4 linked regions of the Homo sapiens genome follow. The protein of the gene in region 1 interacts with the protein of each later gene in a pairwise test. Each region holds a gene or a part of one and is shown on either strand. Other genes may lie near its edges.

Evidence for each region.
Region 2: the proteins of VASP (region 1) and ABI2 interact in binary tests that used the Homo sapiens proteins (3 or more experiments, as listed by UniProt).
Region 3: the proteins of VASP (region 1) and SCGB2A2 interact in binary tests that used the Homo sapiens proteins (3 or more experiments, as listed by UniProt).
Region 4: the proteins of VASP (region 1) and ZYX interact in binary tests that used the Homo sapiens proteins (3 or more experiments, as listed by UniProt).

Annotation. Positions count from the first base shown.
Region 1 is NC_000019.10:45,503,227-45,510,949, reverse strand, and holds the start of VASP (vasodilator-stimulated phosphoprotein), read right to left. Parts: upstream 3,472-7,723; 5' UTR 3,179-3,471; coding exon 3,174-3,178; intron 1-3,173. UniProt on the Homo sapiens protein: Ena/VASP proteins are actin-associated proteins involved in a range of processes dependent on cytoskeleton remodeling and cell polarity such as axon guidance, lamellipodial and filopodial dynamics, platelet activation and cell migration.
Region 2 is NC_000002.12:203,393,961-203,401,461, forward strand, and holds part of ABI2 (abl interactor 2), read left to right. Parts: intron 1-739; coding exon 740-886; intron 887-1,695; coding exon 1,696-1,820; intron 1,821-2,824; coding exon 2,825-3,007; intron 3,008-7,501. UniProt on the Homo sapiens protein: Regulator of actin cytoskeleton dynamics underlying cell motility and adhesion. Functions as a component of the WAVE complex, which activates actin nucleating machinery Arp2/3 to drive lamellipodia formation.
Region 3 is NC_000011.10:62,265,746-62,273,629, forward strand, and holds SCGB2A2 (mammaglobin-A precursor), read left to right. Parts: upstream 1-4,412; 5' UTR 4,413-4,471; coding exon 4,472-4,526; intron 4,527-5,135; coding exon 5,136-5,323; coding exon of another isoform or gene 5,324-5,443; exon of another isoform or gene 5,444-5,458; intron 5,459-7,211; coding exon 7,212-7,250; 3' UTR 7,251-7,415; downstream 7,416-7,884.
Region 4 is NC_000007.14:143,377,277-143,384,761, forward strand, and holds the start of ZYX (zyxin), read left to right. Parts: upstream 1-4,068; 5' UTR 4,069-4,133; intron 4,134-4,280; 5' UTR 4,281-4,295; coding exon 4,296-4,503; intron 4,504-4,642; exon of another isoform or gene 4,643-4,971; coding exon 4,972-5,171; intron 5,172-5,316; coding exon 5,317-5,409; exon of another isoform or gene 5,410-5,524; coding exon 5,525-6,046; intron 6,047-6,813; coding exon of another isoform or gene 6,814-6,825; exon of another isoform or gene 6,826-7,485. UniProt on the Homo sapiens protein: Adhesion plaque protein. Binds alpha-actinin and the CRP protein. Important for targeting TES and ENA/VASP family members to focal adhesions and for the formation of actin-rich structures.

The sequences.
Region 1 (7,723 bases):
ATTTTTTTTTTTTTTTTGAGACAGGGTCTCACTTTGTCACCCAGGCTGGAGTGCAGTGGCAAGAATATGACTCATTGCGGCCTCAACCTCCCCAGCTCAAACGATCCTCTCGCCTCAGCCTCCAGAGTAGCTGGAACTACAGGCGCATGCCACCACACCCAGCTAATTTTTGTATATTTTGTAGAGACGGGGTTACACCATATTGCCCAGGCTGTTCTCAAACTCCTGGGCTCAAGCGATCCTTCTGCCTTGGCCTCCCAAAGTGTTAGGATTACAGGCATGAGCCCCGGCGCCTGGCCCTGTTTGAGTTTAATAGGCACCTTGCCTAACTTTCCTGTGCCTCAGTTTCCCCATCTATAAACTGAGTACCGGGGTGGGGAGGCCACAAGGTTGTAATAGTATCATTGTTCGAACTGCCATGAGGGGCCAGGTGTGGTGGCTGACGTCTGTAATAATAACACTTTAGGAGGTCGAGGCGGGTGGATCACCTGAGGTTAAGAGTTCGAGACCAGCCTGGCCATCACGGTGAAACCCTATCTCTACTAAAAATATAAAAATTAGCCGGGCATGGTGGCAGGCACCTGTAGTCCCAGCTACTCGGAAGGTTGAGGAGGAGAATCGCTTGAACCCAGGAGACGGAGGTTGCAGTGAGCCGAGATCATGCCATTTCACAACAGCCTGGGCAACAAGAGCAAAATTTCCGTCTCAAAACAAACAAACAAACCAACAAAAAAACCAGCCAGAATTGCTGTCAGGCACAAAAATGCCCCACATAAAATAGATGCTTGATCAAATGGTCTCTTATTTTTTAAAAATAAAAATAGCTATTATTGGAAGAAGAAAGAAATGGACCCCAGTTCTCCCCAAGTCCCTTCTGCCCTGAGATTCTAGACCTCTGCCTCGCTTCTCTGTCTTCCCAGCACCCCAGCTCCAGTCCCGGACACAGCCAACACTCAACAAATATTTGTCAAACTGGGAGAAAAAGAACTATATCTTGTAATTTTCCATCTTAACATCCTCTCTTCCAACTGCCCCCAGGACTGTCCCCAGCCAAACCAGCCAGAAATCAGAGGATCCTAGGCTCCTCCACCCCTCCAACGTTGCCTAGGAATTTCTGAGGGATCTTGGCCATGTCTTTTTCTCTTTGAGCCTCAGTTTCCCCAGCTGGGTAATAGGGGCATGGGTTTTGAATTCTGGCTGTCCTTGGAGAAGAGGCACAGCCCAGGAAGTCGGGTGTGACCACCTGCAGGGGAGACCCCCTGGAAAGGTGGGAGTGGCCTTTTGGTGGGACAGGCATCTGGTCATTTCTGCACCGCACCCCACCCCAGCACCCCCACAAGACGGGATGCTTGGCCACCACCACAGCAAGAGGTGGGCCTTGTGGGAGGGCCAGGGCTTCCAGGGCTGGTGCTGGTGGTGGTGGTGGTGGTGGGGAGGACAGGGGGCCGGCCCAGACACCGCTCCTGCCCTTTTACGGTTGCAGTGAGTGAGGCAGCACTAACTCGGACATCCGCCATCCGCCTTCCACCGAGCCTGGGACCGGAAACGCGAGGGGGGGTGGAGGGGCGGGGCTGGGGGGCAAGGGGAGAGAAGAGTCCCGGAGGAAGAGGGCGAAGGAAGAGAGCGACGCTCCCTAAACTGACCCCTCTCCAGGGCGGACTTGGAAGGGATGTTGCTATAATGGGGAGCGGATAGGCAGGAAGTCTTGAGGGTATCTGTGGGTGTCCTCCTTGCTCCAAATTTTCCAGCCATGCCTTTCACATCAGAAGGAACAAACGCGGGAGGGGGATTCTCTAGTGGTCATAAAAAGGAATGCCACGCCACTCCGATGTCAAAGGGCAGGGGTTCAGGAAATGCGGGGGATGTGGGCACCACGGGGTTAATCCCCAACCGTCCCCAGGGGCCTCCCTGCTCAGGCTGGGGGCTTTGGGGCAGGAAGTCCCAGAGAGAGTAGAGGAAGGGAGATAGTATTGTCAGGCTCTGGCCCCATGGGAGAGATTATGGGGGGCCAGGGGAGGGAAGAATAGGGGGGATGGTTGGGCCCCCCTGCCCACACTGGCCCCGCCCTCAGGTGAGCCCAGGAGTTCGGGGGAGGCCCCGGCCAGACCAAATCCCTGGGTCCCTTGGGCCGCCACCCCCAGGATTAAATTCCTGGGAAGATAGCTGGAATTATCTGGGAAGCCTGGGTCCCTAGGGAAGAGGGCTATGACCTTGAAGCTTTCCAGCTCCCCCTCCTCCAACCCCAAGGCTCCGGGTGGATAGGGGGACGGTGAGCAAAGGGGGAGGGGCCGTGGTGGGGAAGGCAGCCGGCCTACAGCGCTTGGTGCCCGCCCCCCACACCAGCTGTCTCGACAGGTGAGTCAGGAAGACAAAGGCCCCCTTCCCCCAGCTGCCGCGCCCCCTCCCTCTCCAGGGCCGCGCAGGTGGGGGAGCCGGGCCGCCCTTATGGCCGGAGGCGGGGAGCCGCCCTCTGCTCCGAGCGCCCGCTCGGTCCTAGGCACGGCCAGTTAAGCAGATTGTGTGCGGAGCGACGGGGAAGGGGGGGGTCCCACCAGACTCTGGAGGCTGCGTCCAGGTCCCTGGATCGGTTCACACCAGCCTCCTCCACAGGAAGACCTAAGTGACCCCCAAAATCCAGGGGATTAAGAAGTACCCCCGAAGTTATGGAGCGCGGTCCCACTTGGGGAGACTTTTTCCAGCACCAAGTAAACGGGGGACCTGCACACCCAGGGTCTGAGTCTCAGTCTCTCTTCCAAGTCCCAGGGTATCCCAAATCGGTCCCCCACAATCCTTCCCGGACCTCGAGCTGAAGTCTGGGGGGAGGGGGAGGAGAGTCTGAGCCCTGCCTCAATCCTGGCATCCCTGCGGGGAGTCGCTGCCAACTTTGAGGTCCTCTAAAAAAAGTCTTAACAATTCGGGAGTCCTCCGAGCGCCCCCAAATCTTGAGGGCTCCCAGGAGAACCTCACCGCCACCACCCCCCGAGCTTGGGGAGTCAGTCGTGGAGAAGTGATCGACGGTTCTGGGGCGCGTCCAAGGGGATTCAGCTCAAATCCGAGGCTCCCAAGGATCTGTCCCCAAATTCCAGCCCGGAGCTAGCTGGGGGGGAGGGGGACAAAGGCGGGGCGCGGAGCCCGCCCGGGCGGGGACGGGTCGGGGGGCAGGTCCGGCTCACCTCATGGCTGCTCGGCGGGCGGGCGGCTCGCCCACGGGCTGGCTGCTCCCGGGGCGCCCCTGGCTGGAGGTTCAGGGGTTCGGGGCTGGCTCCGGGCTCGGCTCAGGCTCCCCCAGGGTCCCGCCCCATAGAGTCCGGCTTCCTGGGGAGAATGTGGACCGGGCCGGGGCGGGTCTCCGGGCGCCGCTTCCCTCAGGCGGTCTGATGAGAGGTTCCTGCAGCAGAAAGGGGATGCAGCGTCCGCTCCCCAGCGCGCACCCCTTGCCGGTGGCGGCTACAGTGTTACTCTTACTACTGTACTTCTCTTCGTTACATTTCGTTCCAAAATTCCACTCCCCGCACCCACAATGCCCCGCGCCTTAAAGGGGCCGCGTGCGCCTCCAGGCGAGGGGGTGGAGGGCGCTTAAAAGGGCAACTCTGCACCCTCGGCTTCCGCGATCTCGCTCCTCTCCCCAATGTTGTAGCCCAGGGGTGCACCCTGGGAATCACCCCCACCTGAGGGGCAAGTTGGTGAAGGGGAAGGGGACCTCCCTTGCTTCCTAGTTCGCTCCCACTGTGGGAATTCTGAGGAGGGTCTCGGAAGGGGCGCGATTTCTTTCCCCATCGACTTCTCCATCTCGTACTCCGCTCAATTTTGGGGGTCGAGGAGGACCCTCAAGTTAAGCAAGTGGTCTCAGATTTTCTCCCTGAAATCCCATCTTCGGAACACCGCCCCTCCCCAGCGTTTCTCTTCTGTCAATTTCGGAGAGGTTACTAAGGGGGCGAGACCCCCACCCGCACGGGAGTGGAAGTCGGGGGAGTAGGGCCCAACCCCTCTCACCCCACCCCGCCCGCCCCGGGAAGGTGAGGAGGAAGTGGGCCAAGGGGGCGCGGTCGGTCGCTGACTCACAGCCGCAGGGTCGGGGGTGGGGTGGGGTGGAGGTGGGGACTGGCGAGGAGTGCGGGAGTGGGGGGCCCGGCATTCGCCCGGGGTGGGCAGGAGGCGCCGGCTTCTTTGGTGTGTAAAGCCTCCGGCCCACGCACGCCCCGCTCTGACTCAGTTTCGCCTGCGGAGGACAGCAGGATCATCCCAGCCCTCAGGAGGGCCCGGAGGTGAGGAGACCCTCCCGGGAGCCCCCGCCCCCACACGCCGGCTCCGGGCTGAGCCCAGACACCCTCTGAGGCTTCCGCAGCGTGTCTTGCCGGCCCCGCCCCGAGTGACGTCACTGATTTGGTCGCGCCCCTTGGGTAGAGCGCCACCTGGCCCGGGTGAGGCGCCCGAGCCCTGGGAAATCAGTTAGTTCCACATTTACACACGGGTAAACTGAGGCCTGGAGACAGGGAATGAATCTGGCCTATGGCCCTCTTGCCTGAGCCCCCAGAACCCGGAAAGCCACCAAGGTCTGAGTGTAAAACCAACAATTCTCAGGGCCAGCTGACTATGTGAGAGAATCCACTTTTCCAGCGTATGTCCAAGCCGAGTCCCATGTCCGGATGTTGATGTTGTCCTGACCTCCTTTACCTGGGGAGCACGTCATCCTTCCAGGCCAAGCTTTGACATTAATTCCCCTCCCCTTCTCCACCCCACTCTGGGAGACCTTGAACCCTGTTCCTCGGAGGTTATCATTGTTTCTCAGTGTGTTTCCTCAGGCTGAGTTGTCTGGGAGAATGGGTAGACTAAATTTCTTTTTTTCTTTTTTTTTTTTTGAGATGTAGTCTCTCGCTGTCACCCAGGCTGGAGGGCGCTGGCTCGATCCCCGCTTACTGCAACCTCCCCCTCCTGGGTTCAAGCAATTCTCCTGCCTCACCCTCCTAAAGTAGCTGGGATTACAGGCACGGGCCACCAAGCCCAACTAATTTTTGTATTTTTAGTAGAGATGGGATTTCACCATGTTGGCCAGGCTGGTCTCAAACTTATGACCTCAGGTGATCTGCCTGCCTCAGTCTCCCAAAGTGCTAGGATTACAGGCATGAGCCACTGCACCCAGTTGACTTAATCAATTTCTGGACCTCACTCACCCCAGCCAGGCCCGCCCGGCTCAGCAGCTCAACAAACTTACCTAGTTGAATGAGTTACCAGTTCAGTGTGACCTTGGGTAACTGTGTTCTCCTCTCTGGGTCTCAGCTTTCCCATCTGTGACATAGGAGGGGTGGCATTTCTGGGTGCCACCTACACTACAACAACAGTCAGCAAACATGGTTTTTTGTTTGTTTGTTTGTTGGAGACAGGGTCTTTGTTGCCCATGCCGGAGCGCAGTAGCATAACCAGGGCTCATTCGATCCTCTAACCTCAGCCCACTGAGTAGCTGGGACTGTAGGTCCACACCACCATGCCAGGCTAATTTTTTGTAGAGACAGGGTTTAGCTGTGTTGCCCAGGCTGGTCTCAAACTCCTGGGCTAAAGTGATCAGCCTGGCTCAGCCTCCCAAAGTGCTGGGATTGGAGGTGTGAGTCACCAGGCCCAGCCGGCAAACATTTTCTGTAAAAGTTCAAATAGGAAATATTTTAGATATGCTAGACATAGGGTCTGGTTTACACACTCTTCAGTTTTTCTTTTTTCTTACAAGGCTTAAAAACTGTAAAAAAAACTCTTCTTAGCTTAAGTGCTGTACAAAACAGGTAGCAAGACCCCTGTGTAAGAGAACGCTTGCATATGTACATAACGATCTTTACGGTAGCAGTGATGTGAGAGCAAGAAATTGGAAATAGCTTAAATGTTCATCAAGAGGACAGGGGAGGCTGGGCACAGTGGCTCACGCCTGTAATCCCAGCACTTTGGGAGGCCGAGGCGGGTGGATCACTTGAGGTCAGGAGTTCAAGACCAGCCTGGCCAACATGGTGAAACCCCGTTTCTACCAAAAACAAAAAATTAACCAGGCATGGTGGCACACACCTGTAATCCCAGCTACTTGGGTGGCTGAGGGGCTGAGGTGGGAGGATCACTTGAACCCCGGAGGCGGAGGTTGCAGTGAGCCAAGATCGTGACACTACACTCCAGCCTGGGAGACAGAGCAAGACTCCTCAAAAAAAATTAAACAAAACAAAACAAAAAAAAGATGAGGGCAGGGAATAGTGAAACCCTTGGACATCCTTTTCTGAAGCACGGAGTGAGCAGCAACTTAAGGAGGTGTGGACTGGGCAAGGTGTGTCATGCCTGTAATCCCAGTGCTTTGGTGCTTTGAGAAGCCAAGGCAGGAGGATCACTTGAGGTCAGGGAGTTTGAGACCAGCCTGGACAACATAGTGAGGCCCCATTTCTCTCTTTTTTTTTTTTTTTTTTTTGAGACAGAGTTTCATTCTTGTTTCCCAGGCTAGAGTTCAATGGCGCAATCTCGGCTCACTGCAACCTCCACCTCCTGGGTTCAAGCGATTCTCCTGCCTCAGCCTCCCAAGTAGCTGGGATTACAGGCATGCACCACCAAGCCCAGCTAATTTTTGCATTTTTTAGTAGAGATGGGGTTTCTCCATGTTGGTCAGGCTGGTCTCGAACTCCTGACCTCAGAAGATCTGCCCACCTGGGCCTCCCAAAGTGGTGGGATTACACGTGTGAGCCACTGCGCCTGGCCGAGACCCCATCTCTAAAAAAAAAAAAAAAATTAACTGGGTGTGGTATCATCCATCTGTGGTCCCAGCTACTTGGGAAGATGAGGTAGGAGGATTGCTTGAGCCCAGGAGTTCGAGGCTGTGGTGAGCGATGATTGCGCCATTATACTCCAGCTTGGGATACAGACTTAGACCTTGTCTCTTAAAAAAACGGGTGGCATGAAGTGTGTAAATGACGTGGGTGACATAGAATGAAAACATCCATTAAGTGGATAAAAAGTTGCCAGAGATACGAAGGGAATGAAAAAAATCAAGGAAACACCCAGAATACCATATATTAATACATGTAAAAAGTCCACTTTAAACTCATTGCAAGGGTTACCAGTGAGATAGAGAGTGTGGGGTTAATTTGGTGGTCACAGAGATCTTTTTTTTTTTTTGTAGAGACAAGGTTTTGCTATGTTGCCCATGCTGGTCTCGAATTCCTGGAATCAAGCTGCCTCGGCCTCCCAAAGTGCTGGGATTACAAGTGTGAGCCACCGCACTTGGGAGGTCTCAAGTCTGTCTTGAAAATGCCAAATTTGGCCGGACCTGGTGGCTGGCTCATGCCTGTAATCCCAACATTTTGGGAGGCCGAGTTGGGTGGATCACCTAAGGTCAGGAGTTCGAGACCAGCCTGACTAACATGGTGAAACCCTGTCTGTAGTAAATACAAAAAGTTAGCCTGGTGTGGTGGCACGTGCCTGTAATCCCAGCTACTTGGGAGGCTGAGGCAGGAGAATCACTTGAACCCAGGAGGCGGAGGTTGCAGTGAGCCGAGATTGCACCATTGCACTCCAGCCTGGGCAACAAGAGTGAAAACTCTGTCTCAAAAAAAAAAAAAAAAAGGGGGGAAATTTTATCCTGCTTCTAAGCCTTCATACTGATTGTTCCCTCTGCCTTAGAACACTCTTTGGGGTATTTGCGGAGCTGACTCTTCTCTGTCAGGTCTCTGCTCAACTGTCCCCTCCTCAGAGACCTTTCCTGATT
Region 2 (7,501 bases), on another chromosome or scaffold:
CGGGAAATATGTGTTAATAAAATCCAGTCTGGTTTGTATTTTACAGTTCAAAGTAAATAATATAGAAAGGCTGTTGTGGTGGTCATTCCCTTCCCCCCACCTTTGTAAATGTTGAACTCTGAGGAAGGAAAGAGAAAAGAGATCAAGGTGAAAGTTGAGGGAGAAAGTGAGAACGGAAGATGAGATTAAAGTGTGTATTTTTGTATATAGATATACTTTAATTTCTGTATATTTGGTATATAGAAAGGGAAATGAGTTGTTATGGCTAGTATTGATCATCAGTGTGGGGGTTATAGATCCTAAATCTAGATTTGTAGTTCCTGTCTTTGAATATCTTTGGTTAGGGAGAGAAGGGAGAGGAGAATAATTAGTGCATTCATGAAGTACAGTTGGGAGACTTTAATATGATACTAAAAGAATTCCAACTCTTCTAAGAAGAGGTAGGGTCTGGGAAACATTGGCTTAAATGGTAGAGAACCTTTGTGCTCTTTGAGAATAAATGAACAAAATTGCATTAGCACAGGGAAATGAGGTTGGAGACTGAAAAATAACAATATTCACCAAAACCCTAATGGTGGAGAAGTGATACATTAGTAAAGACTGAAATTGGTAGCTGGGTTATGTTAAAACACATTTCCTATCTCTGATTACAAATTGTATCTCAACTGCTGGCAACTCTTTGAATTTATTGTGCCGAAACTTGCTTAATCATACAATACATACGCTCTTCTTTTTGTAGGCGGCACTCCCCCTATCGCACACTGGAGCCAGTGCGTCCTCCAGTGGTACCAAATGATTACGTACCTAGCCCAACCCGTAATATGGCTCCCTCGCAGCAGAGCCCTGTGAGGACAGCTTCTGTGAATCAAAGAAATCGAACTTACAGGTATTTTCTCTACCTCAGTGCAAAATGTGATGGTCATAGTACCATAATCTGTTCAGATTACTTCAGGTAAATCTCTCATTTTCCAAGCACTAAGTTCTTTTCCTCACTCTATTCTCCCAAACCTCATCTGATTTCACCTCTCTCTCCTCATGTTCTGATTCAACTTTGAGCAGTCAGGAAGTTGATAAAGAACAGACATCTCAAAGTGCAGACTTCTCTCCAAGTTTTAAGAGTTCAGTTGATCTGGAAAAAAAATTATGGACCAAATGTGGGAAATGTCAGGTTGTTTTTTGGTGGAACTTTACAGATGAAAAACTATACATAATAAAACATTAATATGGGATAGTACATCAGAGTATGATTATTAATTAAAATTACTCAAATCTGTTTAGGAAAATGTTTTTGTTTTATTATAAAAGAAGTTTCTTCAGATAGGCATTAAACTGGAATATAAAAAGGCAATATTTATTGTTTTAATGTGTTAAACCTCAACATTTATCACTTGTATTTATGGATAATTTTTTCAAAATGTGGTCAAAACAAGCTTATTGAACTCAGTTTTCCCCTCAACTTTATTAATAAGTAAATATATATATATATATACACACACACACACACACACACACACACACACACACATTTTTTTTTAACCTGTCACTGACTTGGAGCTCAAGGAAATTTTATTTTGAAGTGGTACGCTTTTGAATTACCTTTATTGTAGCTACATTCATCTCAGAAAATGTCGGGAAGTGCTGATGATCTCTTACTGTTTATAAATACTCATGTTTTGGTGGCTCTTATTTCTTTAGCAGCAGTGGGAGTAGTGGAGGGAGCCACCCAAGTAGTCGGAGCAGCAGTCGAGAGAACAGTGGAAGTGGTAGTGTGGGGGTTCCTATTGCTGTTCCTACTCCATCTCCTCCCAGTGTCTTTCCAGGTAAAACATTCATGGTGCCTCGTCTTCACTTTTCCTTTCTGAATTTGATTCAATTTGTGATTTAATTATGGTGGGCTTTCTTCGTAATCAGGATTTTTTTTCTTTAGGAATCATAAATATTGGGAAGTCTATATATTTGTTATTTGTAAGCAAGTGATTTGTAAGTGTTTGCTCACTTTGCACTTCTCTTTATGCCTTTGGTGATGTGGCTCAGTTGCTGCTTTGAGGTTTCAGATCACACTTTGTTATGAGTACAAGTTTAATTCCAGCTAGTGTTATGACAGTGCAGTCTTTGGACACAGTGGGAACTCAGTGTGAGAACCATATTAGTAACAAAGGATTGGGCAGATATAAAAAGTAGTTTTGACAGTTAAATTTAGTGGCTGTATTGGAATTTAGTAGTCTCTGAAAATACTACCCTCTTTTCTCTGAAACAGAAAAATCTGCTTATTTGATTCGAGGAGATACACACTTAAAACTTAGTTTTGAAAACGTGACACAAAATACATTAATAGAATGTTACATACTTAATTTACTTATAGTAACAAGTAGATAATGCCTTTTAAAAATCATAAAGATTTGTGTTTTAAAAAAAATTTTTAATCTGATAATATGGAATATGTCTATTTTCTGATTTGTGTAATTCAAAATGGAAAACTGTTGTTTTTTAGTGTATTATGTTAGTTTTGTATACTATATACAGAATGTTATGCTAAAAATAACAATACGAAGGGAACACTTTTCTTCTGGAGTAGTGCTTTCAATTGAAAAGGAATGTTTGTTTTTAATGAATTGAAAAAATCTGCACATTACCCTGAGCATCTTGAATTATTTGCTGCTTATATAGTAATCCTTTAGCATAAGTTTTATTCTTTTTTTCAACTCTGTTCTTTTGGTTAGTGTTAAGCACTGAATATCTAACATTAAATACTCTAATACCTTTTCTAATCCTGCCTCATGTGATTGCCTCATTAATGCTGCCTCTTACTCCTCTTTCCCCTCAGCCCCTGCTGGCTCTGCTGGCACTCCTCCCCTTCCTGCTACTTCTGCATCTGCCCCTGCTCCTCTTGTTCCTGCTACTGTCCCTTCCTCCACTGCCCCAGACGCTGCTGCTGGGGGTGCCCAGACCCTTGCTGATGGCTTCACTTCTCCAACTCCCCCTGTTGTTTCTTCCACTCCCCCTACAGGTAAGTATTTGCTTATTCATTGGCAGGCAGATGCAGTCATCTGGCTATTCTCTTACTTGCACCTCTGATTTTTGTTTGTTTTTGGTTTTGTTGTACTTCGTATTAAAAAAAAATAAGAATAATGTACTAACCAGAAAGTATGTGACCAAAGATTAGCATTTCCTGAGAAAATTGAGGTAAAGTTTCTCATACATTTTTCCAATAGGGTAGCATAAATTTGTGTTTTTTTATTGCTTGAATTTCATTTATTAGAGATTTTTAAGTTTAATATGGAGCTACCTTCTATACAGTTTTTGGAAATTATCATTAGAAATATTTTCATTATAGGTTAAGTGATTAACAAAAGTCTATTACAATAATTCTAAGGTATATTTTATAGGAAATATTTGATACAACAAATGGAAAGCCTCTGTAAGTCTATTTTTAACAGAATCTGTTGCTTATTATAGCAGCATTGGAAACTCATAGACAATGGACTTTTAAAGAATTTCAGGTTTATTTAAGTTGGCTGGTGTTTTAAAATTGCAATCTAAAATCTGTTTTGATTGGGGAGGAGATAGACTCAATTGCTACGAAATATATTTGTAGAGTTAATGATGCTGGCTAGTAACAGGTTCTTGTCTGCTATAAAATGTATGTGTTTGGACATATATCACTGTATTAGTCTGTTCTCACATTGCTATAAATACCTGAGACTGGGTAATTTATGCAGAAAAGAGGTTTAATTGGCTAACGGTTCTTCAGGCTGTACAGGAAGCATGATAGTGGCATCTGCTTGGCTTCTGGGGAGGCCTCAGGAAACTTACACTCATGGCCTAAGGCAGAGGGGAAGCACACTGGTCACGTGGCCAGAGTAGGAGCAAGAGGACAAGGCGGGAGGTGCTACACACTTTTAAACAACCAGATCTCATTATTGCAAGAACAGCTCCAAGGGGGATGGTGTTAAACCATGAGAAACCGCCCTTGTGATCCAGTCACCTCCCCCTAGGCCCCACCTCCAACATTGGGGATTACAATTCAACATGAGATTTGGGCAGGGACACAGATTCAAAGCATATCAATCACCGTAGTGTTCCACTTGCCAGTGAAGAACTTCATGGCATTTATATTCAGCTTTGCTGTTATACATGTTAAACATATATAAGATCTTTACATGTTTTAAAAGACACTTTTAGCCAAAATGGATTTTGGGTGATGTCTTGTGGGATTCCTTCTATATGACTTTTAAAGAAAAGCTTTCTGCAGTAGATAAATGTAAACATGGGGTGTTTTTTGATCCAGATACAACTGTTAGGCCAAACTAACTAGTTAAATATAGGAATCTCGTTATGCTCCTGCTTTGATAAAGAATGCATCAGAAAGGACAAATCACCCCCAACTGAGAGTCTATGTTTTAGTAATTAAATATTAATTGAATAACAGGTGCCTGGCTCAGTGTTCACTAAATAAACATTTGTTATGTGAGGGGATAATTAACTGTGGTTTTTAAAACAAAAAGCAAGGTAAATGTCTTATTAATAATTTATATCAGGATAGTCTGTTTTATACAGTACCTGAGTTACCAAGCAATTGTTTTTCTTTTTACCAAGGTATAACTTATGTACAGTAAAATTCACCCTTTATACCATATATGTTTGTGAGTTTTGGCAAAGGTGTACTGACATGTAATTGCCACCACAATCAAGTTACAGAACAGTCCTATCATCGCAAAAATTTCCTCCATGCCCCCTTTATAGTCAGTCCTTCCCTTCCACTCCCAGCTCCTGGTAAGCCCTTGATGTGTTTTTTTTCTCTAAAGTTGTGCCTTTTTAAGTATAACATAAATGAAAGCATATAGTATGTAGCTTTTTTGATCTGTTTTTTTTGGCCAGATGCATTTGAGAATTACCCATGTTGTTGCATGTTTAAGTATTTCATTACATTTTATTGCTTAGTAGTGTTGTATTGTATGGGGATGTACCACAATTTGTTTATCCCTTTCTCAGAGGACATTTAGATTTTTCTAGTTTTGAGTGCTTATGAATAAAGTTGCTATAAACATGTACATACAGGGTTTTTTTTGTGCACATGGGTTTTTATATCAGGTAAATACCTAGGGAATAGAATTGCTGGGTTATATTGTAAGTAAATTTTTAACGTCATAAGAAACTGCCAAGTTGTTTTCCAAAATGGCTGTATAATTTTACACTCCCAGCAGCAATGTGTGAGTTTCCAGTTGCATCCTTGTCAGCCCTTGGTGTTGCCTTTTTTAGCTTTAGCCATTCCAATACATGTGTAATGGTTTCTCATTACATGTGTGGTTTGGATTTGCATTTTCTTAATGACTAATGATATTGAACATTTTTTTCATGTGCTTATTTGCCATGTGTATATCCTCTTTGGTGAAGTATCTGTTCAAATGTTTTGTTCCTTCTCACCTTTTTAATAGGGTTTTTTTCCTTATCATTGAGTTCTTTTATATTCTAAATATATGTCCTTTATAGATTATGAGTTACAAATATTTTCTTCCATTTTGTGATTCGTTTGCTTATTTTCTATTTTTTTGGCGGGGGGAGGAGGGGCGGGCGGACAGAGTTTCACTCTTGGTGTCCAGGCTGGAGTGCAATGGCAGGATCTCAGCTCACTGCAATCTCCGCCTCGCGGGTTCAAGCGATTCTCCTGCCCAGCCTCCCAAATAGCTGGGATTACAGGCACCCACCACCATGCCCAGCTAATTTTTGTATTTTTAGTAGAGACGGGGTTTCACCACGTTGGCCAGGTTGGTCTTGAACTCCTGACCTCAGGTGATCCGCCCGCCTCAGCCTCCCAAAGTGCTGGGATTACAGGCGTGAGCCACTGGGTCCAGCCTGTTCATTTATTTTTTTGATGTTGTATTTCAAATAGCAGAAATTCTTCATTTTTATTAAGTGTTATTTTTCAAAATTTTTTTAAATGAATCGTGCTTTGATGGCATATCTAAGAACTCTTTACCTGAAGTCATAAAGATTTTGTTCTGTGTTTTCTTCTAGAAGTTTTTAGTTTCAGGTTTTATCGCTAGGTTTATGATAATTAGGTATATATATTTTTAAAACCCCAAATGGTAAATCGACTCATTAATAGTGTGAATAGTGTCTTTTTTTTTTTTTTTTTTTTTTTTTTTTGAGACAGAGTCTCACTCTGTCACCCAGGCTGGAATACAGTGGCAATCTCGGCCCACTGCAATCTCCGCTGCCTGGATTCAAGTGATTCTCCTGCCGTAGCCTCCTGAGGAGCTGGGATTACAAGTGTGAGCCACCACACCCAGCTAATTTTTTGTATTTTTAATGGAGACAAAGTTTCACCGTGTTGGTCAGGCTGGTCTTGAACTCCTGATCTGAAATGATCCACCCGCCTCCACCTCCCATAGTACTGTGATTAAAGGCCTGAGCCACCATGCCCAGCCCATGTGAGGTTTTAGACTAGATCTAACTATATAAAATTCATAATGATGTTAATCCAGATGTTTTTAACTTGATCGTAGGTTTGTATTAGTTTGCTATAGATTAATTACTGAAATGCTAATTGTATTCAGTGGTTCAAATAACTAAATATGCCTTTTAAATCATAGTTTATATGTTTTCATTTTTATCATGGTTACAGAGGCTTCTCAGTTGATAGTGGATTATGTTTAAGCTTGAGTGCTTAAGTTTTTGATACACATGTAAGATGTTTAAATGTTATAACAAGCCTTGAGTGCTCTTATAATCCTTATATGACTCCATATGAATCTAAGCTTGGTAAACTTTCAGCTCCTGTAGAACAATTTTAGTCATATAAAACCATTTTATAATCATAGACAAGATGAAAAATTGTCAAAGTGTTGTTTTCCTCTAATACTTTTAATTAAAATTACCAAGAAGATAGTCTCATATTAAGGTAGAATAAAGATGGTAAGACTCAGCTGAGAAATATGAAGCCTGGAAGAGGATATGACTGCAGTGTTTGATCATGAAGATTTCAACAAATCAAGCATTCATCAAATTCCATATTACATAAGTCTTATCTCACTGTGTTTCAAGTAGTTTATTTTAGAATTTAAAAAATTTCAGGATAACCTTAGGCACAAATGGATAGATGAGTGTGCCAGGTATCATCTGTTCCTCCAGTCCCCCCTCCTCTACTCTCCCCTCTTCTCCAGTAGGCTGACCTCCATGAAATGTTTCAGTGGATTCTTTTGCCCTCTGGCTTCCTGTTGGGTTTAGCAAAAGTGTTTTTTTTTTCCTTTTCACTTATCTCCTCCTTTTCTCCCTTTCTCTTTCTCCTTTCCTTTCCCCTCTGCTATCCTCTTGCCCTCCTCCACCTTCATCTCCTCCTCCTCTACCTTCCTGTCCCCTTTCCGCTTTCTTCTCCACCTGCTTATTTCTCCGCCTCCTCTTCTCTCTTGCCCTCCCCTTCTCCCTTGTCTGCTATTGTGCTCTCTCATGGGTGCTGTGGTGCTCTGTCTGTAAGAAAAAGTTCTCAGCTTAATGTAGGTGG
Region 3 (7,884 bases), on another chromosome or scaffold:
AACACAAGGCATTAGCCATCTTTGATGTGGCTTTTGGAATGAAGTGTTTCAACCCAGAGCAGCTGAGGCAAGGGCAGAGGAGGAGGGGAATCCACTTGGAGCAAAGGTCTCAAGCAGAAAACTCTTCTCCAGGGCTTGTGCAGAAATCAACCCAGAGTTCTCATAGGGCAGCAGTGGGAGTCATGGACACCAGGACTCATCTGAACCATGATGTGCAGGTCCCTCAGTGTTCAGCCAAGGAGGGAAATAGTGTTGAGAGCAGCCTGTGGAGCCAGAACATCTGGCTTTTTATCCCGCTTCTGCCCCTTCCTAGCTGTGTTCTTTCAGGTGAGTGCCTTAACATCTCTGTGTCACATTTCTGTTAGGTGGGGTGAAATGACATGCCCACATCATAGGGAAGTGACTACTCATGCTAATTTGCCCACAGCAGTCCTGGGTTATGTTATTGTCCTGGCATCCCATTGATTTTATGTTTCTTTTCAGCCACCAAAATGTTGGAGTTTGGCTAACAAATAATACGGTCACCCTTCTGCTAAGGTTGCTGCTAGGAATGTTGTCACAGGGTTCAACAGTGCCTTTCAAACAGCAAACTGCTACATAATTATGATTCCTGCTCTACTGAACATTAAAAAGCAAGTGGAAGCACATTTGGAGCTGAGTTCTGGGAAGATTCATCGGACGACAGTATGTAGGGTCTGTTTAGGAGAGAATTTATATGTCAATTAGAGCTCAGCAAAATTCTTTAAAATGGACTGAGAGAAAAGATACCAAAGCCTGGATCACAATGCAGTGCTTTATTTTCCAAGTTAAATGTTTTTGCTTTGTCTAACTATGGTTATTGTGATATATTTTTGAGAATATTAAGGGCAGACTAATTTTCCAGTGTTCTATGATGAGCTTAGTAGTCCTAGGAGTTGAATCATAAATACAACTCTTAACAATAGGAAAAGATGATGAGCAACTGACATTTAGACAGCACTGACTCTGCACCAGGCACTGTTCCCAGTACCTTACCATTTTTACTTTACTTATGAGTCACAACCATTCTATGACTGTTTCCATTTTGAAGCGGACACAAATCGTTAAGTCTCCTGTCCACCGTGGCACTGTCAGCAAACAGAGGAGCTGGGATGTGAACACAGGCAGTCGGTCTGGCTTGGGGTCCTCACTCAGGAGCCATCAGCCATGGGCCTATGAAGGAAAAGGGCTGCAGAATTCAGCAGAGATGCAGCTTCCAGGGCCGGCCATTCCAGGCTTTTCGGTACAAATACAGAAATCACTGAGAAAAGATGACTTTCAAACAACATTGCTATTTAATATGAAGTATGGCAATGCCTTTCCTTTACCCAAATCCCTCATGTCCCTACATCTCAGCTCTTTTGTGAGCCCAAGGCCAGGGTAGATGTCTGCCTTTTTTTTTAAGGCACACTTTTTTCCCCTCACAAAACACAAGCACATTTTAGAGAGAATGTGTGAATGACTTATTGCTTTGTCATAGTAGAGGCTCAGTAAACACTTGTCACAGAAACACTGAAGACTGAAGGACACTTGGCTTCCAGTTTCTGAACTGAATTAGGGACCTGAATAAAAGTCCCGGCCAGGTGCTGTGGCTCATGCCTATAAACCCAGCACTTTGGGAGGCTGAGGTGGGTAGATCACCTGAGGTCAGGAGTTTGAGACCAGCCTGACCAATAAGGTGAAACCCCATCTATACCAAAAATACAAAAATTAGCCAGGCATGGTGGTAGGCACCTGTAGTCCCAGCTACTTGGGAGGCTGAGACAGGAGAACCTGGGAGGGGGAGGTTGCAGTGAGCCGAGATCAAGCCACTGCACTCCAGCCTGGGTGACAGGGCGAGACTCTGTCTCAAAAGAAAAAGAAAAAACAATTCTTCCCTTTTGGGAAGAGAAAAAATTGGACCAGCAGTACCGTGTTTTAAACTTCTGATTCTCCTCTCTCTCCCTGCAAATACTGGCTTGCAAATGAGCCTTTCTTGGGCCAGGTATGTCTTATGACTCACCAGAGAATGATCACTGTCAGATCTGGATACAATATGTGAGTGAAAGAAAACACCATCTCTTTAGTGGGGCACCATGTAGGTGGTGTGGGGAGTTCATTTTAGATGGGTAAGATAACTCTGCGTGAGTGTTTGTCCCTGTGGGAAAGAGGGCAGGTCCATAAGGACTGGGGCACCAGGCAGAGACCCATTAGGTCTTGGCCAAGGAGACAGTCTCCGTTTCATGATCAAAGTTTTTCACTTCATTTATGGAAGAAGGATGCCTGCCATGGCCAGCTGGGTGAAAGTACACCTATAAGTACAGAAACCTTCTTTTCTAGCCTCTTCCTAAATCAATTTTGTTCTCAACTGGAAAATATCTGAGGCTCCAGCTGAATGATGGAAAGAAAGACGTCATGGGTAATCCGGACAGCAAATAATGCATCCACGGGAAGTGAAGAACCGACTCATCTCTTTGGCTCTCTCATCCGTATCTTCTTTTTTTCTTTTGAGATGGGGTCTCACTCTGTCACCCAGACTGGAGTGCAGTGGCGTGATCTTGGCTCACTGCAACCTTCGCCTGCGAGGTTCAAGTGGTTCTCTTGCCTCAGCCTCCCGAGTACCTGGGACTACAGGCATGCACCACCACGCCCATCTAATTTTTTGTATTTTGAATCGAGATGGGGTTTCATCATGTTAGCAAGCATGGTCTCAATCTCCTGACTTCATGATCTGCCTACCTTGGCCTCCCAAAGTGCTGGGATTACAGGCATGAGCCATCACGCCCGGCCTCTTTTATAAAAAACCCAAGCCAGCTTTGTATTTCTTGTTCCCATGACCTTCACCATGCCCCTAATTAAACGAGGGTGGGTTTTCTGTCACATGAGGCTGTCCTGTCCTCCTGATCCCATGTGGCCATGTTCCTTGCCTTCCTTACCTGGCCAAGTGCCATCTGCCCTCTGGTCTCTGATCTTGTCATTCCCTCTGCATGGAACTGCATCTTCCCTGGATCTGTCACTAGACAGTGTCGTCCACTCATCCAAATGTCAGCTGAAATGGCATGGCCTCCTCCTCTCAGTAGTCAGTCCATGACATCATTTTGCTGTTGTGGATATTTTGAGTTCTTTGCAGTGATTACTACTTTCTCATATCTCTCTTATGTGGCAGGATGCTTGTTACCTCCCTTATTGGAAAGTCAGCTCCATGAGAGCAAGGGCTTGGTCTAAATTGTGCCTATAACTGAATTTATGGTGTGCAGCTCACTGCCAGCTCATAGGGGATGCTCAGTAGTTATTTAAAGATGGATGGCTGCATGCATGGATGAAATCTTGTCTTTATACATGACTACTTTGTACTGGGCTGTGTGAAACAATTTTTTTTTTGAGACAGAGTTTCACTCTTGTTGCCCAGGCTGGAGTGCAATGGTGTGATCTCGGCCCACTGCAACCTCCACCTCCTGGGTTCAAGCAATTCTCCTGCCTCAGCCTCCTGAGTAGCTTGGACTACAGGCACGTACCACCATGCCCAGCTAATTTTGTATTTTTAGTAGAGAAGGGGTTTCTCCATGTTGGTCAAGCTGGTCTCAAACTCCTGACCTCAGGTGATTCACCCACCTCAGCCTCCCAAAGTGCTGGGATTACAGGCATGAGCCATTGCGACCGGCCATGAAACAATCTTTACATGAAGCATCCTTATACAAATTCTGCATGCTATCCCATTCCGCCTTTTATTTTCTTCAAGTGATGAAAAGGAAGGATGCTCAGAGAGACCAGCAAGGACATGGCAGGACTGCAAGTTGCATCCAGGGTCCAAACCCTCATCCCTGATTCCAAATTCCATCACCACCCACCACCCAGCACTGCCTGTCCAGCCCATCAGTTACGCTACTAATTCACAGCATCCTTTGAATCAGTGGAAAGAAAACCCTAAAAAGTTACCAAAGAACTAAACAAAGTTATCAATTAATTTATAATTAACCGAGATAATCCTTGTAAAAATAACTTTCAGCGGAGGGTGGATGGCCTTAAATTTCCCCACAAAAGGTAAAACTTTCCCAGACATCCCTTTCTGAAAATGAGATGTCAGTGGATGAGAAAAGCCTGCTCCCAAGAGTAGGTGTGAGGTATTGCACCTAGGCCCACTGCTGGGATAAGCTGGCACAGATACACGGGACATGATGCTTTCATTCTCACCTTAAAGAAAGAGACAGAGAAGAAAAGGAAGGGGAGCAAGTGGAGAAGGAATACAAGAAAGAGGAAGAGAAGCAGGAAGATTCTACATACAGGCTGGCTGTGTTTCCCCTGGGGCATGCTCCTGTTTACTGGTCCCATGCCAGGTTGACTCATTGCCTCGTTCATGGGTGGAATTAAGATGCCTACCTGGGGAATAAATAGAGCAAGGCTGGGTGCTCACCTCCACAGCGGCTTCCTTGATCCTTGCCACCCGCGACTGAACACCGACAGCAGCAGCCTCACCATGAAGTTGCTGATGGTCCTCATGCTGGCGGCCCTCTCCCAGCACTGCTACGCAGGTGAGTTCTGTGCAGGGAGGGCTGCCTCGGGGTTAGGGGTTGTCACTTGGGCCTCTATGGAAGAACTCCTGCTCCCCAATTCTCAGCAGAGATCAGCCCCAGTACAAAGGCTGTAGGTATAACAGATCTCACCATGTTGCCCAGGCTGGTCTTGAACTCCTGAGCTCAGGCAGTCTGTCCACCTCGGCCTCCCAAAGTGCTGGGATTATAGGTGTGAGCCACCACACTTGGCCTAAGATACTTGGAAATCTTCTGTGATGCTCTGAATGGTAATAGTGAAGCATCGTATGATTTTGAACCAAAGAAGACCAAATAATCTTCACGATATACTTCCAAGTCCGAGTGTTTCATTTCTCAAGTCTTCTCATTAAATGAAGTTTCATGAGGTTTAGCTTTTCTGGGCTGGGGAGTGGAGAGAAAGAAGTTGCAGGGCTTACAGGAAATCCCAGAGCCTGAGGTTTTCTCCCAGATTTGAGAACTCTAGATTCTGCATCATTATCTTTGAGTCTATATTCTCTTGGGCTGTAAGAAGATGAGGAATGTAATAGGTCTGCCCCAAGCCTTTCATGCCTTCTGTACCAAGCTTGTTTCCTTGTGCATCCTTCCCAGGCTCTGGCTGCCCCTTATTGGAGAATGTGATTTCCAAGACAATCAATCCACAAGTGTCTAAGACTGAATACAAAGAACTTCTTCAAGAGTTCATAGACGACAATGCCACTACAAATGCCATAGATGAATTGAAGGAATGTTTTCTTAACCAAACGGATGAAACTCTGAGCAATGTTGAGGTGTTTATGGTAATTTCATTTTCTTCCTATAAGCTTTTTAAATCCCCTGACCAGGGACAAGTGGGCTCTTCATTTCTCACTGACAATGCCAAAGCCACTAGTGAACAAGCCTTTTCTTACATTGGTTAATTTAGTTGAATGGTTAGTCTAATGACTTTGCCATCAAGAAAAACATCCAGTGTCCCTGTGTTGTCACTCTACCCAGAGAATCCTCAGTGGATGATAAATGAATAGGGCAAGAGAGGAAAAGGAAAGGTCGGTAGAAGTCTTACCTATCCCCAGAGCTCTCTAATTCATGCTCACAAACACAGACACAATCACACAAACACAGAAACACACATACACACATCCAGACACATGCAAACACACAGACACAGTCACAATCACACAAACACACACACATTCAGACATACACAAACATAGACAGACAGGCAAAGACACAGACACAGACACAGACACAATCACACCAGCACACAATCATCCAGACACAAACACAAACACACAGACAGAACCACACAACCACAGAAACACAGAGACACACACAAACACACTCAGACACACACATACAAACATATGTTCACTCTCTACAGAAAAAACAATTTTCCAGAAGACCCGCACCTATAGACCAATCTGCAGAGAAAACTTCTCTTCTTCAAAAAAAAGTAAAAGTGTTCTTTCTTAAAAAATGCCCTATTTTTCAACAGTTTGGAAAATACCATTTGAGCAAGATTCTATACATCTCAAATAAAAAGAATTTAAAATGCACTTCCAGGCAATCATAATTTGCTAGCATAAATGATGAGAAACCTTGGACTATCCAATAGGCAACTGTAGATCATGGGTATGAAACCACCATGGAGGAAGAATTGCCTCAAACAAAAACCAATAGTTTTGTATTTCTTTCTAACTATACATGTATATTGTTGAGGGTTTTCTTTAGCATTTATTCCCTATGTTAAATTCTTCTTTAATCCTTCCCTGGTAAAAAAAAAAAAAAAAAAAAAGTTAGAAATATACCAAACCCCTCCATTAGGATGAAAGTGAACATCACCTCAGGAAACCCTGACGCTTTCTACAACATGGATGAACCTTGAGGATATTATAGCGAGTGAAGAGTGAAGCAAAGAGTCACAAAAACACAAATGCTGCATGACCCATGCATATGGGAATCTGGGGAGCCAGACTCAGAGACAGTGAAAAAAAAAAAAACAGTGGTTGTCAGGGCTTGGGTGCAGAGAAGAAGGGGGAGTCATATTTAATGGGTCTGGAGTTTCAGTTGTGCAAAACAGTAATATTCTGGAGTTAGGTTGCACAACCACACGAATATACAGAACACTCCGAACTGTCCCCTTAAAATGGCAAATTTTATGAGATGTACATTTTACCACTATTAATAATTTGTTAAAAACTAATTATCAACTGCAGGGAAGGGTGATGGATTTGTTTCTTTAAAAGCTTCCTCAGACAGATCATAGTCTGCAGCTCCAATAATTAGTAGAGCACAATGGTGGTGGCAGAGGGCGTCGGACTGCTGGGATGCTGGGAATATTTCCACAATGGAGGGTTAGACGAGAGCTCAAAGTTTCACTTTTTTTTTTTTTTTTTTTTTTGCATTTGAGCTAAGATTTTAACAATCCTGTGAAAATAGGTAATATAGTCACGTATTTGTTGAATACATTATTTCAAAGAACCACAAACACACAGAAAAAATATTTAAAAAGTCCATGGTGGGGGAAATGATCCAGAAACAACAGCTCTTCTACTTCCAGCCCTAACCGTCTGGGATGCTAGATGGTTGTGGGCAAACCGTGGAAAAAGATAAGCTTCTGTTTTTCAAGATTTTATTTTGTTAGAGAGTGCAGAAAATCTAAGTGATGTCTCTGTTTTTGCTTTCTAGCAATTAATATATGACAGCAGTCTTTGTGATTTATTTTAACTTTCTGCAAGACCTTTGGCTCACAGAACTGCAGGGTATGGTGAGAAACCAACTACGGATTGCTGCAAACCACACCTTCTCTTTCTTATGTCTTTTTACTACAAACTACAAGACAATTGTTGAAACCTGCTATACATGTTTATTTTAATAAATTGATGGCAAAAACTGAAGTTTCTCTTTGTTCTACCGTAGAAAAGAGGCGTTAGAGGGCCTCACATATTTTACATACACACACACACACACTTACTTATTAAAGAACTCATGGTCATGGGTTGAGGACTCTGTGAAGCATTTGTTTCCTCAGTCTGACCTCTAAGCCTTGGTACTCTCTCTGAAGAGTGTTTCCCTGTCCCCATCCCACCACCTCCCCCGTCGACTCTCTCTGGAGTCCTCAGGCTCTGGGATGTGAGGCAGGGTTTCACTCAGAGGACCTGCTTTCACTCCAGTCCTCCCATCCACGCTGAGCCCTGCTGGCCATGTCAGGCTTCTCTGCGCTGTCTCTGGGCCTCCCCGAGATGTGCAGGGCCTGGGCCAGAGCCAGCCAGGGAGAGGAGTCCTGCAAAGCAGGGTGGCACCTGACTGGGTTTAAATTTTGTAATTTTTACTCATCATGGATGTTGGCTTCAGTTTAATT
Region 4 (7,485 bases), on another chromosome or scaffold:
ACATCTTCTGGAAATGTGCTATTTTACAAAAGCACGTATACATATAGCTTGCATATACAAAATGTGTGTATGTGTTCACATGCAGATAGATATATAAACAGACAGAATTTGATGGTGTCATGAGACAGAAAGAGAAAATGGTAGCCCACAGGTATAAAGTAGGGGTGTTGGGGTGAAGGCAGACTTGAAAGGGGCTGTTGATGGACCAGGTAGGAGGGCCTGAGGAGAAGTGATGGAATACAAGGATGGAAGCAAGGATGGGGCAGGAGAGTCTTAATATTTGTGTTGCAAAAAAATTTTGCAGTTTAGGAGGTGAGAAATCCAACATCCAGTTAGCCTCAGTTTCCTTAACTAAAAAATGGGATAATGATGTATATTCCTCACAGGTTTATAGTGATGATTAGAAGGGGCGAATATATATATAAACAAACATACATATATGTTTGTTTGTTTTTTGGACAGAGTCTCGATCTGTCACCCAGGCTGGTATGCAGTGGTGCGATTTTGGCTCACTGCAACCTCCGCCTCCCAGGTTCAAGTGATTCTCCCATCTTAGCCTCCTGAGTAGCTGAGACTACAGGCACGTGCCACCACGCCCAGCTAATTTTTGTATTTTTAGTAGAGATGGGGTTTCACTATATCTTGGCCAGGTTGGTCTTGAACTCCTGACCTCAGGTGATCCACCCACCTTGGCCTCCCAAAGTGCTGGGATTACAGGCGTGAGCCACTGTGCCTGGCCAGGGCTAATATATTTAAAGTGCTTAGCATTGCACCTCAAACAATATTCTAAGCATTCTCTCAGCGTGTGCTGCTATTATAGTTGTTGATGTTATTAGGGTGCTGCTATTGTTGCTGTTTTCAGAATGCTTCACGTGGTCCCTGGCCCGTGAGTGAACCTCTATCCATCTGCAGTTGGCATATGGAAAGAACCTCCTGGTCACATTTCTCTTTCCATTTTAGAAATCATTCTTTTGTTGTGACACTGTCTTTTCATTTTCCTTCCCTGACTGCTCTTAACTTCCTACTTTATGCTGTGCACTCTTGAAGAAAACTTTCTGGTACCTGATGGTTATAAATCCTTGGAGGCGCGTGAAGATGTTTTAGGTAGTAAAGGGCAGTGGCCATTTTCTCACTTTGTCTCCCTGGCCTGGTCTTAAGCTGTTGGGCATTCTTTAGTCAGGAACATCTTCTTATTTGCTGTACTTCACACATACTGCCTAAGGATATCAATTAGAATTGCTTACTTAAGAAAAATGCCCAGCAATCGTTAAGGCCACTCTTGTTCATTTCCTGCATTTTTTTTTTTTTTTTTTTTGAGATGGAGTCTCACTCTGTTGCCCAGGCTGGAGTGCAGTGGCGTGATCTTGGCTCACTGCAACTTCCGCCTCCTGGGTTCAAGCGATTCTTCTCCTGCTTCAGCCTCCCCAGTAGCTGGGACTACACGCTCCCGCCACCTCACCAGGCTAATTTTTGTATTTTTAGTAGAGACTGGGTTTCACCACGTTGGTCAGGCTTGTCTCAAACTTCCGACCTCAAGTGATCTGCCTGCCTTGGCCTCCAAAGTGCTGGGATTACAGGCGTGAGCCACTGCGCCCAGCCCATTGTCTTCATTTTAAGAGCACTGACTCTGCTGCTCCTCTTGAGACATCTTGGGCAGTGATTCTGTTCTTCTGGGATACTCTGGGTGTTTCTACTTGTATTTAGAATGGCTGGCTTAAAAGTCTTTGTTTGAATATTCCGCATTCTGAATGCTCTTAGTTGTCAGTAAAACTATGCCTGCCTACGCACTCTTCTATTTCTGATTTAAAAATAGGTTCAGCTGCCTAACAATTACACATACTCTATTTTGCACGCGCACATTACTTAAGGAGACATTTAGAGGGTAGATAGCTTTTATTCCTATGAGTTATCTTGAAATCATCTTCTTAACTATCTTTTTTTCCCCAAAGGGGCCATATTTTGAAGGATTTGTGATGAGACTTTTGGTCTGTGAAGCCCAAGACACAATCTCCAACATGCACAGGAAATCCAGTATCAAATTTCTAACATGTCTTCAGAGACAGGCCCAGGGCTGGCTTGAGCGTGTCAGAGAGGTGTGCACTGCGTACTACCCATCATACATGGCCACACATGCCTGTGGCTGTGAGAAATACTGGTGGTGACAAAGACAATGAGATGCCAGAGAAAAAGATCAGTGGGGTTTGCAAAAGTGATTAAGATGTCGTCCTAGGTATAATTAAAGACTTAATAAGGTTGAAGGAAAGAGAGGACATTGCACATACCGAGGCCCCTGAGAGATCTGCCTGGCAACCCAGAAAGGGACATATGGGGGAAAACGCCTTAGTGTAACCAGGTCAGAATTTTCATTCTGGGCAGAACTGGAATTTGAATAATAATACTGAGTCATATAGCGCATACAGCTATGACATTTCATTTATTTCTCTATATAATGCAATAAAGTAGATGGATTAACCGTGACGTTTACAGATGGAGCAGGGGAGAATGAAGAGGCGTCAGTTTGGGCATCAGGCTGGATCTTCACACTCTGACCTCACTCTGCTCTATCCTGCCCAGTGTTGCTTCACCTGATATCAGGGGTGCAAGGCAACCAGATCTGACACCAGTTTCAGTTTAGATCCTGCCTTTACCTGGGTGTGACCCGGGTCCATCTCTTCAGCTCGGCCTCTGCTTTCTCTTCATAAACTTTTGGGGTTAGTCCTCGGATGATCTCTAAAACATGGCCCAGGTGCTCCTTGCCAGTAGAGTGTAGCCGGATTTGGAGGGACTGGACACTCAGTGTGAACAAGACGAAGGCCTCAGGAGGCAGTAAAAGCTGACAAGAGGAGAGAAAATGAAGCGCCTACGGGTGCATACTGGACTAGCGGGCGAAAGGCCATGACTCCTTAGTTTGGAGAAAGAACTGGGGCCGAGATTGGGGAAGTTTCCCAGTGCAATTAAAAAAAAAAAAAAAAAGAACTAGAAGAATTACCCAGGTCTGGCTTCTTTCGTGTAGCCTGGGGCTGAGTCGCAGGCTGAGAAATCCAGTCTGGCCAGTAGGGGGCTCCACCAAGCGCAGTCTCAGAATGCCCAAGAGCTCCACCGTCGCCCGGGGTCTCCACCAAGCGCAGTCTCAGAATGCCCAAGAGCCCCACCGTCGCCCGGGGTCTCCAAGAGGAGTGGGTCGTGGTGGGCGTTGAAGGGCCGTAAAAGACGAGCAGCCCGCGTCCGCGTCCGTCCTCCCGGGTCTCCAGTCCGCAGGCGGCCGCCGCCTCGGCCCCGCCCTCCCACCTCCATTCCCGGCCCCGCGGACCCGAACGGTCCCTCTCGCAACCGATCTGCTGGCTGGGGCGCTGGGGATGCGAATTCCTAGAAGCCTTAAGAGGCTGCCCAGCGTTGGAAGTTCGTATCCCCAAGAATGCTGGAGGTTCCGGCTCACACACCCCCTCCGGGCACAGAGTCAGCTGGGGGGTGCTGGGAGGGAGAACGCCCCGCTCCTCACCCCCCATCCCCGTGCACCCTGGAGCCCAGCTCCATACGTTCGGCCACCCCAGGCGGACTCGGGGTGGCCGGGTAGCGGGTGGTGGCAGGAGGGGACCGGGTAACGGCAGGCCCGAGAGGAGGTCGCTGGGCCGGGCCGGAGGCGCACAGGGGCTGCGTGGCTACCTCGGCGGCACCCGCCCCACCTCCGCCGGCTAAGCCCGGAGGGGGACGGTGAGTCAGATCTCGGGCACCCGCGGGTCGGGCGGGGAGGGGGAGGCAGGTCAGGAAATGACATCAGAGGCCTGTGCTCAGGGAGTGGGGGTCTGAGCCGGGCTGGGGCGGCGGGGGCGGCAGTGAGTGGGGTGGGGGCGAGCGGACCTCGGCGGAGCCTCCGGCCTGAGGCAGGATCAGGGCCCCTTCCTGGGGGAGTTTCCTGCCTGGTCCGCCCTTCCCCGCTCTCCCCGCCCCCTCTCCGGGCCGCTCCTTGTATGGTCTGGGCGCCGCTCTCTCCCCGCCCCCTCTCTTCTCCCTCCCTCCTCCTTCCGTGTGTCCCTCCCCGCCCGGCTGGAGGCTGCTCCGGACCGGGACGCAGAGTCTGCGGACCCGGCGCCGAGGCGGCCACCCGAGACGCGGCGCGCACGCTCCGGCCTGCGGTGAGGCGCGGGGAGCGGCAGGGCGGCCCCACGGGGAGGGGGCGCGGGGCGCCGGGAGGGGGCGAGTGGGGGTCACCAAGGGGAGCTGGGACCGCCTGGGGCTCCTGAGCCCGGCTCCGCGCTGCGTAACCCGGCGACCCACCCCAGCAGCCCGGCCCGGCCATGGCGGCCCCCCGCCCGTCTCCCGCGATCTCCGTTTCGGTCTCGGCTCCGGCTTTTTACGCCCCGCAGAAGAAGTTCGGCCCTGTGGTGGCCCCAAAGCCCAAAGTGAATCCCTTCCGGCCCGGGGACAGCGAGCCTCCCCCGGCACCCGGGGCCCAGCGCGCACAGATGGGCCGGGTGGGCGAGATTCCCCCGCCGCCCCCGGAAGGTATGCGGCGGGGCTTGGGGAATGTACCCCGGCAGGAGCCGGGGTGGGGGGCAGTCGTTTCGGGAATTTGGGGATGTCTGGAAAGGTTGTTGCCGAGGGGGCTGGGCGCAGCCACCCTGTCCCGAGCAGATGTTCTTACCTCATCGTGGAGCTCGTGGCTGGGAGCCAGGGCTCCTGGGACCGTTCCAAGTCCCCCGCCTGGGAGTGGGAGTCGGGAATGTGGGGCACGAATCTTCCCCTCCGGGTCCGTTTTCCGAAGTGTAACGGGAGCTGCACCACTCCTCGGCAGTGCGCCCGGCCTTTCCTGACCTGGTACTCCCAGGGCGCCCTGCGCCCCTCCTTTGCTTCCCCACACGCTCTGGGACCCCTGAGAGAGTTCTTGGGTTAGGGGTTAGAGCGGTTAACTGAGGGGAGCTTGGGTGAGGGGTAGAGGGACCCCGGCCGACGTCTTTCTCCTTCCTACCCCAGACTTTCCCCTGCCTCCACCTCCCCTTGCTGGGGATGGCGACGATGCAGAGGGTGCTCTGGGAGGTGCCTTCCCGCCGCCCCCTCCCCCGATCGAGGAATCATTTCCCCCTGCGCCTCTGGAGGAGGAGATCTTCCCTTCCCCGCCGCCTCCTCCGGAGGAGGAGGGAGGGCCTGAGGCCCCCATACCGCCCCCACCACAGGTACGGAGGCCTGGGAGGGGCGGCTGCACTGGACACCCCCAAGGAGAGGAGAAGAGGGCCCTTTCTTCTTACCTCCCCTGCACCTCTGCCTTGGGGGTGGGGGGATAGAGGCATGGAATAGGTGCTCTGACCTCTGACCCTCTAGCCCAGGGAGAAGGTGAGCAGTATTGATTTGGAGATCGACTCTCTGTCCTCACTGCTGGATGACATGACCAAGAATGATCCTTTCAAAGCCCGGGTAAGGGACCGGAGAGTAGGAAAAGCAGGGCTCAGGGCCAGAGAGACTGGGCATAGAACTAAGGAGGATGGTGTCCTCCTGACTGCATCTCTCTTCCCTCTCCCACCCCTTGCAGGTGTCATCTGGATATGTGCCCCCACCAGTGGCCACTCCATTCAGTTCCAAGTCCAGTACCAAGCCTGCAGCCGGGGGCACAGCACCCCTGCCTCCTTGGAAGTCCCCTTCCAGCTCCCAGCCTCTGCCCCAGGTTCCGGCTCCGGCTCAGAGCCAGACACAGTTCCATGTTCAGCCCCAGCCCCAGCCCAAGCCTCAGGTCCAACTCCATGTCCAGTCCCAGACCCAGCCTGTGTCTTTGGCTAACACCCAGCCCCGAGGGCCCCCAGCCTCATCTCCGGCTCCAGCCCCTAAGTTTTCTCCAGTGACTCCTAAGTTTACTCCTGTGGCTTCCAAGTTCAGTCCTGGAGCCCCAGGTGGATCTGGGTCACAACCAAATCAAAAATTGGGGCACCCCGAAGCTCTTTCTGCTGGCACAGGCTCCCCTCAACCTCCCAGCTTCACCTATGCCCAGCAGAGGGAGAAGCCCCGAGTGCAGGAGAAGCAGCACCCCGTGCCCCCACCGGCTCAGAACCAAAACCAGGTGAGGGATGGTGATAGGACAAGGCTTGGTACCAGGGCACTGGGGCGGGGCTGGGTCAGGAGCCAGAGCATAAGCATAAGGTGATTGGAGAGTCAGGGTGGACACGGGGGTTGCGGGGTGGCGGGATAGGAATTTTCATCCTCTGGGGTTAGCCTGGTGGAACAATGGTAGGAAAATGCTCCTCTGGAGGAGAGGCCTGGCTGGGTGTGGGGCTGGGTGGGGCCTGGCTGGGACGGCGCAGAGAGCATGGGCTCTGAATTAGGAGGATCTGGTGGACCTTTCCTTGTGCCTTTACCCCAGAAAGTTAAAGGGAGGGATGAGATCACCAGTTCCACCTTGGTTTTTCCCATTCTTGGGTCTTGAGTTAATCTCCCTGCTCCTCTGAGCACTCTTTCTGCCTGAGGGCTTGGAGGTAAGAGACAGCCCCAGTAAACACTGGTTGAGCCAGCATCCACCACGTGCCAGGCACTGTGCTCTGTGCCCAGGAGGGTAGGACATGGGAGGGAAGAGATCTCTGCAAGAAGCTCAGCCTTCAGGTGTCAGATGGACCTGGAATGGAATTCTTGGCTCAGCTTCTCCCAAGTCCTTAGACTGGGCAAGTTAGGTGAACCCTGAGCCTCAGTTTCTCAATCTTTAACATTCTCTACTCCATACAGTGGTTGTGAAGATTGGGTGAGCTAATACCTAGAGAGTGTTGGGTTCTGTATCTAGTACAGGAATGCTCAAAATAGAAAAGCTGTAATTACAAAATGGTTCTTGCCTTCTAGTTCAGGAAATAAGATCGTCCAATTTCTGGTGACGAAGATGACCCTGATGGTCATCTAGTCCAAGCATCCAGAGTCCACTGATAGTGTTGATGTCTACCTACACTCGGACACAGCATAGGAAGAAATGCCAAGGGCCAGTGAGCTTTGCAGAATCCTGTGAGTCACAGGCACTCAGACCAGGGAGTCAACTCGGGGAGTCAAATTAGGAAAGGCTTCGAAGGATGGGCAGGACGTAAGAATCCAGAGAGGAGAGGGATGTTTGGAGAACAGAAAGTGGAAGGTTCCTGTAGGAAAATGATAGAGCTATACTTGGAGAGGCAAGCGGGGCTGGAGGGTGTAGGAGGTGAAGTGGCTCACCCAAGGAGCTCTTGAGCACTGGAGAGGCATTCATGATTTTTGAGTAGGTGTGGGGTGGGTCAGGAGGGCTGGTGAAAGCAGTGTTTTTGGAAGCTTTCTGGAAAGTTTCACCAGCAGAGATGTGTATTCGAGGGAGGTCAGTGATGGGTGTGAATTCACTCTTGGGCAATAGTAATGTTAGCTGCAATGAAAATTAAACCGTGCATGTGAGAGCTGTGTGCTAGAGCTGTTGGGAAGGCACAGCCTCCAGGACTTAGCAAGGGATGAGCAATTGGAAGACAAGGGTGAGGGGAAGAGGGAAAAAAAAGTCTCCAG